Linked DNA regions of Homo sapiens. The protein of the gene in region 1 interacts with the protein of each later gene in a pairwise test. Each region holds a gene or a part of one and is shown on either strand. Other genes may lie near its edges.

The links.
Region 2: the proteins of WDR4 (region 1) and ZMYND8 interact in a two-hybrid assay, tested with the Homo sapiens proteins (one large-scale study listed by BioGRID and IntAct).
Region 3: the proteins of WDR4 (region 1) and REV3L interact in a two-hybrid assay, tested with the Homo sapiens proteins (one large-scale study listed by BioGRID and IntAct).

The regions. Positions count from the first base shown.
Region 1 is NC_000021.9:42,865,984-42,869,633, reverse strand, and holds part of WDR4 (tRNA (guanine-N(7)-)-methyltransferase non-catalytic subunit WDR4), read left to right. Parts: intron 1-3,650. UniProt on the Homo sapiens protein: Non-catalytic component of the METTL1-WDR4 methyltransferase complex required for the formation of N(7)-methylguanine in a subset of RNA species, such as tRNAs, mRNAs and microRNAs (miRNAs).
Region 2 is NC_000020.11:47,350,076-47,353,725, reverse strand, and holds part of ZMYND8 (MYND-type zinc finger-containing chromatin reader ZMYND8), read left to right. Parts: exon of another isoform or gene 1-721; intron 722-985; exon of another isoform or gene 986-1,165; intron 1,166-1,976; exon of another isoform or gene 1,977-2,016; intron 2,017-2,447; exon of another isoform or gene 2,448-2,532; intron 2,533-3,650. UniProt on the Homo sapiens protein: Chromatin reader that recognizes dual histone modifications such as histone H3.1 dimethylated at 'Lys-36' and histone H4 acetylated at 'Lys-16' (H3.1K36me2-H4K16ac) and histone H3 methylated at 'Lys-4' and histone H4 acetylated at 'Lys-14' (H3K4me1-H3K14ac).
Region 3 is NC_000006.12:111,368,146-111,371,795, forward strand, and holds part of REV3L (DNA polymerase zeta catalytic subunit), read right to left. Parts: intron 1-3,650. UniProt on the Homo sapiens protein: Catalytic subunit of the DNA polymerase zeta complex, an error-prone polymerase specialized in translesion DNA synthesis (TLS). Lacks an intrinsic 3'-5' exonuclease activity and thus has no proofreading function.

The DNA.
Region 1 (3,650 bases):
ATTTGTAGGAGCTCTTTATATTTGGACACTTTAGTTTTACAAAATAAGCCCATCTCCCAAAGTGTGGCTCTCAACATGGCCTTTCTCACACGGCCTTTCTGTGGCACAGGTGTGTAAGGTGAGCTGCACCGGTAACCACTGAGACTGGATTAGCATTTTCCAATACCCTTGCCTTAGCTGACAAAACTTCAAAGCCCTGGGGTCAAGAACAAGTGCAGAGCTGAGATCCACGTGCCGATGTGTACACGGATCTCAGACGTGATCCAGTTACTTAGACAACAGTGGAGTGTGTGGGTTCCCGTTCAGCTATGGTGAGTGGGGTTGTAGAAGTTGGGAGTGAATTCTCACTTGTCTGCTTCCCCTGGAGTACAGTTCGGTGTCCTCTCATGCTACCTTTTGCCTTTTTTATCCTTTGGTTTTGGTCCGTACAGAAAATTGGAAACCACTGAGAAGTACAAAATGAGAGCAAGAACAAAAACCACCCTGAATTTCACCACCCAGAGCCAGAGTATGGGATGAGCACTGGGGCCAGGCCCTCCTCCTCCTCTCTGCAGATGGATTACAGGATTTGCATGTGTTACACTGTAGTGGTGGCATGTGCTAGCCTATAGCCTGTTCCCCCCCGCCAGGGCAGTGTTGACAACACTGTGTCATTCCCTGTAGCTGAGTTGTTACATTGTTTGCACTGTTCCACTGCTCAAATGCTAGTGTTTCCTTGTACCTCTTCCTGCCTTTAAACTTCGGGAAGTTTGAGCCAGAGCAACTGGGACAGCAGAGGTGTGGACAGTGTGGGTTTACTGGCACCAATGTGTGACAACAGACACGGCGAAGCTTCCCAAGCCTTGGTGTCCAGCGGTTTCCTTGGGGTTGATCACATGCTGTGGGGGTGGCTGACTTTTAGTTCCCAGCCCCTCCAGAGGTGGAGTGGACACCTTGTGGCCCCAGGCCCCTGCCCTAAATCACGTACTTAGGCTGCCTGTGGGGCCCAAGGCCCCTACTCTTGGAGATGAGGCCAAAGGCAAGGTTAATTCTTCACTATGCAGAGGGTGTACCCTGTGCCAAGGCTTTTGATGTCTGGTACCAGACACCATTTGAGGAGTAGCCACTGCCTGCAGAGGGTAGGGGAGGCTGGGTCTGGCCGTGTGTGCCGTAGGCCTGGCTGGTGGTGGGGGTGAGCGGGCAGGGAGCTCACTCGTGTCTTGAAGACGCTGACTCTTTCAAGTCTGGACAGTGCTGCGGCTGTGAAGTTCTGAGGTTGCCAGAAAGATGGAGACGTGGGTGGAATGTCACCTTACTTCAATGTGAGCTTGCTGTCCAGAGGTAGTGTCTCACTTTGAACTTGGGAGAGAGGGGATGTCCAGTCTGCCTGCCCGCTGTGTCCTGGTTCCTAACAGTGGAGCTTCTTCACCCTGATGGAAGCGCGGAGGCCCAGGGCTCCTCCAGGGGTTCTGACTCCTCCAGAGGGACGGGGCCTCTGCTCCTGGCATCGTGCATGGCCCAGAGGAGGGAGGAATCTAGAATTCTCTCCACTCAATGTGGTTGCCTGTGGCAGTTGGCTTCTTGGAGGAGGTCATTTGAGGTTGAGAGCTCCATGAGTTGGGACTCGTGGTGGATGCAGATACCGCTGCAGGCTGGGCGGGTGGGGGGCCTCTTCATCCTTGGTTGTAGGTGCTTTGCCAAGAGGGAGATGTCTTGCTGTGTTGACTCGTCTTTTGAAGGTTGTGTGCTGGTGTGATTCTCTTTATGGAAGCACCTGGTAAAACTCTGGGAGGCTGGCATGGTGGCTCATGCCTGTAATCCCAGCATTTTGAGGGGCCAAGGTGAGAGGATCCCTTGAGGCCAGCAGTTCGAGGCCAGTCTGGCCTCAACATAGTGAGATCTCGTATCTACAAAGAAAAAAAAAAGCACAAGTCCAAGAGTGGGCAGTGCATCTAGTTTAAGTACCCCTAATCTGAAATTCACAATCCTCCAAAATCCGAAATTTTGTGAGCATAGGGAAGATGCTCAAAGGAAATGCTCACTGGAATGTTTCGGATTTTGGATTTTTAGGTTAGGGATGCTGAGCCAGTAAGTATTTGCAAATATTCCAAAACCTGAACAAATCTGAAGTGCAAAGCACTTTTCGTCCCGAGCATTTGGGATGAGGGATGGGCAGCCTGCAGCATGTGAGCAAAGAGCAGTGTTTGGCTCTTGGCAGTGCCCCTTTACCTGTGCGTTCACTTTTTTTTTTTTTTTTTTTTGGTGGAGCGGAGTGTCTCTTTGTCACCCAGGCTGGAGTGCAGTGGCACGGTCTTGGCTCACTGCAACCTCCACCTCCTGGGTTCAAGCGATTCTCCTGCCTCAGCCTCCTGAGTAGCTGGGATTATAGGAATGAGCCACCACGCCTGACTAATTTTTATATTTTTAGTAGAGATGGGGTTTTGCCATGTTGGCCAGGCTGGTCTTGAACTCCTGACCTCAGGTGATCTGCCCACCTTGGCTTCCCAAAGCTCTAGGATTAGAGGCGTGAGCCACTGCGCCCGGCCTGCTCTTGGTTTTGAAAGTGATGTCAGCAGTATAACTTCGTGTAGGAAATGTTTGCCTTAGGTGGTGTGGAAGATGGACCATGTGATTTGATGCAGTCCAGGCAGCAGATTACAAAATCCCGCCTCGATGGTGTGGCTTGGGGTTTCTCCTGACCTTGGTGTAGGGCACGCCTTGCTGCCTCCCCTTTCTCTAGTTGAACTGCAGGACAGTGGGTACAGTTGTGAAGTTACTGCCACTTTCAACATCTCTTGGCAAATTCCTCAATAATCTTTTTAAAATTCCTTTAGAATTGTGGGTTTGTGAACTTTTCAGCATCGGGTGGAGTGAAATTGTTACCCTTTCTCTCAGTGAGAAATTGGAGGGGATTATTGTGGCAGGAGGAGTAGGTTTGGGGGATGCGAGTGGGGCAGGGAGAGGGGCATAGGGTGAGTTTTATCAGGAGCTGCTTTCAAGGAGAGGACTAGGGTGAGTGGAACCATGCTGAGCTGGCAGGCAGCACCCTGTGGCTGGTCCGCAAACATGGGGGCTGCTCCCCACACCTGGAGGCTTTTTATGCCTCTTAGATCTCAGACTCTTAGATCTGATGCACCCGCTCCCCAGAAAACCGCCCACGCTTAGCACATCCACCTCCATTCAGTTTTAGAGGTTCCATGTACTCCTAGCCTCTCTGCATTTCACTGAGGCCCTGCACCGCTGCAGGATGCCCCTGAGCTGGGCGAGACCCTAGGCTCTGTCCCATGGTTGCTTTGTTACTGTGCTGCTGCTGGGAAGCTTCCTGTTGAAGGGTTTTGAGGCGTAGCCAAGATGGAAGTTGTGGGCAGCAACGATTCTTTCCCAGGTAGCAGTTTAGAACCGCAAGGGACGGAGGGCCTGCCACCTGGGCAGTCAGGAGACTCTTGGCCCGAGGGACTGAGGCCAGGTTTTCCAAGCCGAAGATGAGGACACAGGGTGACGAGTGATACATTGATTTTGACATGTGTGTTTATGAGGGAGAAATCCTCCCAGTGGAGTCTGTGTTTCCGAAAACAACTGTGAGAGCCACGGCAGCACGTGGGAAAGGCAGAGCCAGAGAACCATCTGATTCGCTCTGCCCAGGGGGTGGAGAGAGAGCACCTGGCTGCTGG
Region 2 (3,650 bases), on another chromosome or scaffold:
GTTTTCCTTTTTCCTTCTGCCTCCTCAGTCCCCAAAGAGGATACACAGCTGCAAGGAGCAAACACAGACACACTGAAGCTTTTGATTCCTCTCCTTTTTTTTCCTTCAAGACCCTCCAGGATGGATTCACTTTCTGCTTTGGGAAATTAAGTGGCATTCACGTGGGGGAGGGGGAGTAACTGCTTTTATTAGCTCCAGAAAATGGTCAGTGTTCAGTCTGTAACTAGGAATTAATTATATATAATCACTCAGTAAACTTTCTACAGAGTTTTTCTAATTGCTGAGCCTGATCATAGTTAGCCCGTTGGCGCCAAGTCCAGTTACTTTTATAATTAACAGCTCAAAGATTTGAGTCAGAAAGAAACAATTGGGGGCCTCTTGGATTATAAATTAGGGATGAAAACAATAGCTTTTTTTCCTTTCTTTCTTGTCATCCCTTTTATTTTCAACAAAACATTTCCCCTTTTCTTTCCCTGGGAGAACCAGTGGGGAGACTGCATCAGGTCTTAAATAGGATGAGGGGGGAGACACTTTTTAGGAAGTGGGGTGACAGTAACCTAGAAAACCCTGGAGGCAAAGGTAGGTTTTTAAAAGTCCAGCCACTTGCAACGCGTGATGTCTTTGTTTCTTTTGCCCTCTTTCCCCTTCTCTCTCCTGTGGCAGAGGCAGCAGACATTTGTCAGCCTGGGAACCCTCAATCTGGCTTTGCCTCTGGTTGACTCTGGAAAGAAAGATACATTCAAAGGGGCCTTCGCTACTGCACAGCAGAGATTTAAAAAGGGAATATGTTTCAGAACCCTTTGGTTACTCTTAAAATGCAAGATCTGAGCAAGGGTTCACCCTTGGCTTCAGGTTGCTAAGGTTATGGTCACCCTCCCCGCTACTTCCCACTCTCCTTGCAGACAAACAAACAGGCAGTGGCCATGCCAGCTCTGCAGCCAGTGTGCTGCCAGCCTGTCCCCCCCATCCCGATTACCTTACCTACCGGCCGGCGGGGGCCAGTGGCCCGTCCTTGCCCTGGCATGGCCTTGGGCACTGTGCCCTCCTTTCTCCCCTGGAGCTAAAAAGCAGTCACCTTGAAACTCCTCACTCCCAGCACCAGAGGAGTTCTGAGGCCAATGCTCAGACCTGTAACAGTAAATGACGTTATCCACTCAGGCTGTTAGTTCGGCCTCTGAAAGCGGGTTTTGCAAAACCCATTGTTAATTCTCAGGCTCTGTTGGGGGTGGTCAGAAATCTAATTTGTGAGTATCCTGTGCATTGGATAAGGGAATGTTTTCCTTGTGTTTCTCCTCTGCAGACTCGGATTGTCTTTCCTTGATGTTAACTGTCTTAGGACTGGCTGCTTCAGAGGGCTGGGTATTTGGTGGCTGTTTGCAGGCTTATAAACAGCCTTTTTATTTTACCTTTGCCGTAGACTGAGGTGCAGCCCTTTAGCTTGGCTTTTCAGATGCCTGCTGTCCTTGAAGCACTTTCATTTTACCTAGCGCCTTTTTGGTATGGATGCAAAGCTGGTTTCTAATAGACTGAGAAGAGAAGGGGGACCGGGCTTCCTCCTTGCCTTCCCCCAGGCTGCTCCCTGGGAACATTTTTGTGTTTGCACAGACACCTGTCCGTCTGCAGTTTGTGCCACGGGGCTGCACGATTCCTAACCTTCTACCCACCTAATTTGAGGGCAAGGGGGCCTCATCACAGAGCCTCATGTTGAAGGCTCAGGATCTACAAGAGAAGGCTTTTCCTTAGGAACCTGTGACTTCACAAACTCTCCCTGTCATTGCAGAGTTTTTTTTAAGCTTCTAAACGTTGGGTTGTTGGTGTCCTTTGGTTCAGCTTTTCCTAGTTCTGGTATTTAGGAAGGTGGCTTTGAAACTCGCAGGGCTGCTTAAACAAGAGCTACAGCTATTGAACAAACTGCTACCATTTTAGCTTCAACACAGGAATGAGGCAGTGTTGCCAGACGCCATTTTAAGAATCCTGCATAAATAGCTTAGCTACCGATGACTCTGCCTGTTTTAGGTGAGTGCTTATATAAAGCTGCTCTGCTAACCATTCCCCCCCACCCCAATTTCTTAAAAAATTAATTGTAGATTTAGGGAAGCATGGTTTTTAATTTTGATGTTCACTATTTTGTAATCTAGAAGAGGAAGATGTTATGCCTTGGGGATTAAATATTTCTTACAGCCTGGACCATTTTGGTATTTTGAATGAAAAGTAAAAACCAGGAAAAGTCCTTTCGAATGATGCATGATTCTTGAATTGCTGTGCGATGATCCTCATCTGTAGAACCAGAGTCTTGTGCATGTTGGTTATATATTCTAGATGGCTTAGATACTCTTCTTTAAAAGTCAAATAGTAGGGGCACTTGGGGAAAAGAAATATGTGGGCATTGTGTATTCAGGCATTTTTCTGTCAAAACTAGATGCTTTCTTTTTTCTCTCTCTTGGAAGTGTTGAGGAGATGAGATTCCTGGGAATTACGGACCATCCCTGAGTCCTCAGAATTAACAATCAGAAGGCTTAAAGCATCCTGGAGGTGCAGTAGTTCATCTGCAACTTTTAATTGCTCTTTTTTCAGTGCATGCAGGTTAAGAAGTAAGCATAGGTTTTCTTGCTCAGGCACTGGGGGAGAAATCTTTTATTCTTTTTGGGATGGGATGGGGTGGTCTTGGTTATCTTTGCAGGTACTGTTATTTCTTTGAATTGCCTCAAATGTATCAGTTTGTGAAATCTGCAGGCAAATGACTTGGGTAAATGTGAGTGTAAGAGGTGGTGGTGTATACAATGTATCTAACTAGTTGATGGTGTATTTTCCTATTGGAGTGAGAAATTGTTTGCTTTTCAGCTAATTTTACCCTTTTCTGTAGCGGGCCCCCAGTTTCCTCAACAGACCTTTAAAGGGAAAAAAGTAATGTCAGTTTGAAACAAGAGCTTGTTGTCCCATTGTTTTTGATTTAAATCATCAGGGTTGCTGGAAGCTAGCAGATATGGAAGGAAATAAGCTGTCTATGTTCTAAGACTTTAATGTGTTAATGACAGAAGTTCAGAGTATTTTCTCCAGATGCAGCTGCCTTTTCTTTTTAAGAATTATTTGACTGTTTTTTTTCCCCCAAATGACTGAACAGTTCTTAACCTAAATTGACCAACATCAGTGGGGCAATTCAGACAGGTACAGATCTTTTCTTGCGCCTACTTTTGATGTAATATTCATTTTTTTTTCCTAATAACATACTAGTTCTTAACACTAAATCAAAAAAAAACACACACACACACACAAAAAAACCGAAATCAGTGGTGTAGGAAAAAGGAAGTCCCTTTAGATGTGGCTATTCAAAATGACTAATTTTGCATTCTGGTCTTTGCTTTTGTAAATGAAGTTTTTTTTTTTTTTTTTTTTTTTTCTCCTTTTAATGCATAGACACTGCAGTTTCCTTTAGTCAAATACAAGTTAATTGTGTGTGTGAGTGTGCGTGCATGTGTGTGCACGGGTTCCTTTTGAAAGGATGGTTTGCTGATCTGTGAAAAAGATGGTTTTCTTAAATTGTTGTGCTTGAAATGCTGTGCTAAAGCTGGTGGTGCTATTGCTAAAGTTGGGTGATTATGGTGCCCACTTGTAATACTTGGAAAGATAAAACAGCTTAACTTTTTTTTCCC
Region 3 (3,650 bases), on another chromosome or scaffold:
CCCTGCCCCCTCTATATTGTGCAGGTACATTCTATCTTTAGTCTCAATATGCTTTTCCTCACAGGTATATGACTACTACTTAATTTCCTTTGGAAGGTACCATTAATCTTAGGGAGAGAAGGTATTTTTTGTTTTATTTTAATGCCCCATGAAGCCTTCTGTCCTTCAAGGAGATGACACAAACTTTTCAGATTCCTTTCCTCTCCTAATCTTAAAATAAATTTTCCATTATTACCACATATGAATAAAAACAATGAATTTATCATTCAAATACTATGTCCCTGGATATTATTCATAGCTTCTTCCTATATTCTCCAGTATCTGTAGTTTAACAAAGCCAGTCAATTCAAATGAATCTTCGTACTCTCAAATTCCCTTAAACATTAAAAAAAATACCAACTGAGGTAAATTACTCTAATTCTTTCTTCCCATTCCATGGCAGGGATTAACACTGACATAACTTAGGAGCTGGCAGAGCCCACAGGATGCATGGCTTAAATGTTACCAATGCATGAATATGTGGGAAATCACTAATGAAAACAGTCTGGTTTCATTTCCAATAGTTATAAATATTAAGTGAAACCTCTGTCTTTCTCCAATCCCTTGATACTATTTCTGCTTACTACAGCAACATAAAATAATTCTACTTCTTCATGTTAACTTTATTATGGATATAAAGTTAATTCATAGTTTTTTCAATCACTTCTCTTAGGGCATGATTCCCCAAATGTCCCCATCACTCTCTATGTAAAATCCACTAACTGGATCATGTTTTCAGATTTGAAGCTGAAAGAAGAGCATTAGGGCTACTCTGTCTCCTTTATATGAAAAGACTTAAGCCCCTACTAGTTAACTCCATAACCAGCATCCAGCACTGTCCCTGCATCCACTCTTGGCAATGTGAAAAAACAGAAACAGAATTAATGCTGTTGAAGGAAATGAATACACATACCAAGTGACCATACCCAACTCTAATACTAAGGATAGAGAAGTCATAATGAGGTCAAGAATAAAAAATGGTGAGGTGTCGGGAGGCTGAGGCAGGAGAATGGCGTGAACCAGGGAGGCGGACCTTGCAGTGAGCCGAAATCACGCCACTGCACTCCAACCTGGGTGACAGAGCCAGACTCTGTCTCAAAAAAAAAAAAAAAAAAAAAAAATGGTGAGGTGTGGTGAATTCAGTTTTCTTACATATTGTCAGCAGCATGGTAATTGCTATAACCCACTGGGAAAAAAAATCTCCTAATATGTATCAAGAGCCTTAAATTTTTCAGTAATCCTACTTCTAGGGCTATAAGGAAAAACTCCAAAATACAAGAAATGCTTTAAGAAGAAAATGCTAATATCTTCTTAACATACATAATAATATACATAATATCTATAGTGGCAAAATTGCAAACAACCTTTCTGTCCAATAATATATACATGATGCAACATATGCAGCGATTAAAATATTCAAGAAACTCATTTGGAAAATGTTTACAATATAATGTTAAGTGAAAAATTTGGATATAATACTGTGACTATAGTAAGATCACACTTCACAAAACAAAACAAACTAAAAACTATACTTTTTAAAAAAGAAAACAGAATACACATCAAAATATTATGGTGGCTGTTACTACATGGAAAAATGATGTAATTTTTATTTTTTCTTCTTTCATACTTCCTAAATTTTCTATATTGAATATACAGTTTCATTTTTTTTTTTTGAGACAGTCTTGCTGTGTCACCAGGCTGGAGTGCAGTGGTGCGATCTCAGCTCACTGCAACCTCTGACTCCCTGGTTCAAGTGATTCTCCTGCCTCAGCCTCCCGAGTAGGATTACAGACTCATGCCACCATGCCCAGCTAATTTTTGTATTTTTAGTAGAGATGGGGTTTCACCATGTTGGCCAGGATGGTCTCGATCTCCTGACCTTGTGATCTGCCCACCTTGGCCTCCCAAAGTGCTGGGATTACAGGCGTGAGCCACCGTGCCCGGCCTACAGTTTCATATTTCAAAAATATTTTTCAAAAATGATTATTTTTTATTTTAGCTGCAGGACAAGTGTCAAAGTTGGACAATAACAACAACACAAAGGTAATGACTAGCACATAAAGTTTGGTAACTAAAAGTAAATATACCATAATCACTACTAATAACACCAAAGTCCCCAAAATGATGGAAACTAACGTCTAAAGAACAGATTTCATATGCTCCAGCAGTGAAATAAAGAGTTCCATGTGGGTACTAAACAAAACTGTGTGTTGAAAAGGGGCTGGGAGGTGGACATTTCTACCTTTCACTTCAAGTCATTACAGGAGAGAACTTTTATTCTGCATTTCTGATAACCTTTTCTCACCCCTTTATTAAAAAAATAAATTTTATTGTGTATATTTAAGGTATAAAATATGATATTAGTATATAGTAAAATGGTTCTTACAGTGAAACAAATTAACATATCCATCATTTCACATTCTCAACCCTTTCTTAAATGGATTCCTATAGGAATTATTGTGAATCTGCTGGGTAAAAGCCTGGCATTCACTGTCGTGTTTTTTTAATTTAAACTTTTTTAAAAAGATATTTTAACAGCTTTAGGTTGACAGCAAAATTGAAAGGAAGGTACAGAAGTTTCCCATATATCCCTTGTGCCCCCACACATACATGGCCTCCCTCATTATCACCATCCCCTACCAGAGTGGTACATGTGTTACAATCGATGAACCTATGTTGACACATCATAATTGTCCAAAGTCCACAGATTACATTTGGGTTTGTTCTTGGTGTGGTACTTTCTATGGCTTTGAACAAATGTGTAATATTCATATTGTATCTTTCTTTTTTTTTTTTCCCACTGGAGTCAGGAACATGGTACTGCCACAGGTCAGTGCATACATGCAGTGTGTCCTCTGCTGCTTTTCCTATCTCTTTCCAAGATTTAGACTAAGGCAGGGCCTGCCTTAGCAGTTCCAGCCATCCTCTTCTGCTTCTGAATGGATGGCTGAAATGAACTGCCTGCTCTGCAACTGGTTAAGTATATGAGATCATGGACACAAGGGCAGGAACAAGAGCCATCATTTAAACTTTCTGGATTAAGCCACATTACCCAATTTAGCTTTCATCAGTTATGTCCTAACTTGGTGATGAAAGTGGTATACACCATAACTACTTAACTACTGATAAATAAACCAGTACTCTGATTTCTATTTTGCTATTTGCTGTGTGTGTGCGTGCGCTCACATGTTTGTCTATCAATTCCCTGAAGAGATTTTTTTTTTGAGATAAAGTCTCATTCTATTGCCCAAGCTGGAATGCAGCGGCGTGAACACAGCTCACTGCAGCCTTGACATCCTGGGCTCAAGTGATTCTCCTTCCTTAGCCTCCTGAGTAGCTGGGACCACAGGTGCATGCCACCATGCCCAGCTATCTTTTTTTTTTTTTTTTTCTGAGATGGAGTTTCACTCTTTATTGCCCAGGCAACAAAGTGCAGTGGCGTGATCTCAGCTCACTACAACCTCCACCTCCTGGGTTCAAGTGATTCTCCTGTCTCAGCCTCCTAGGCAGCTGGGATTACAGGCACCTGCCACCATGTCCAGCTAATTTTTGTATTTTTAGTAGAGACAGGGTTTCACCATGTTGGCCAGGCTGGTCTTGAACTCCTGACC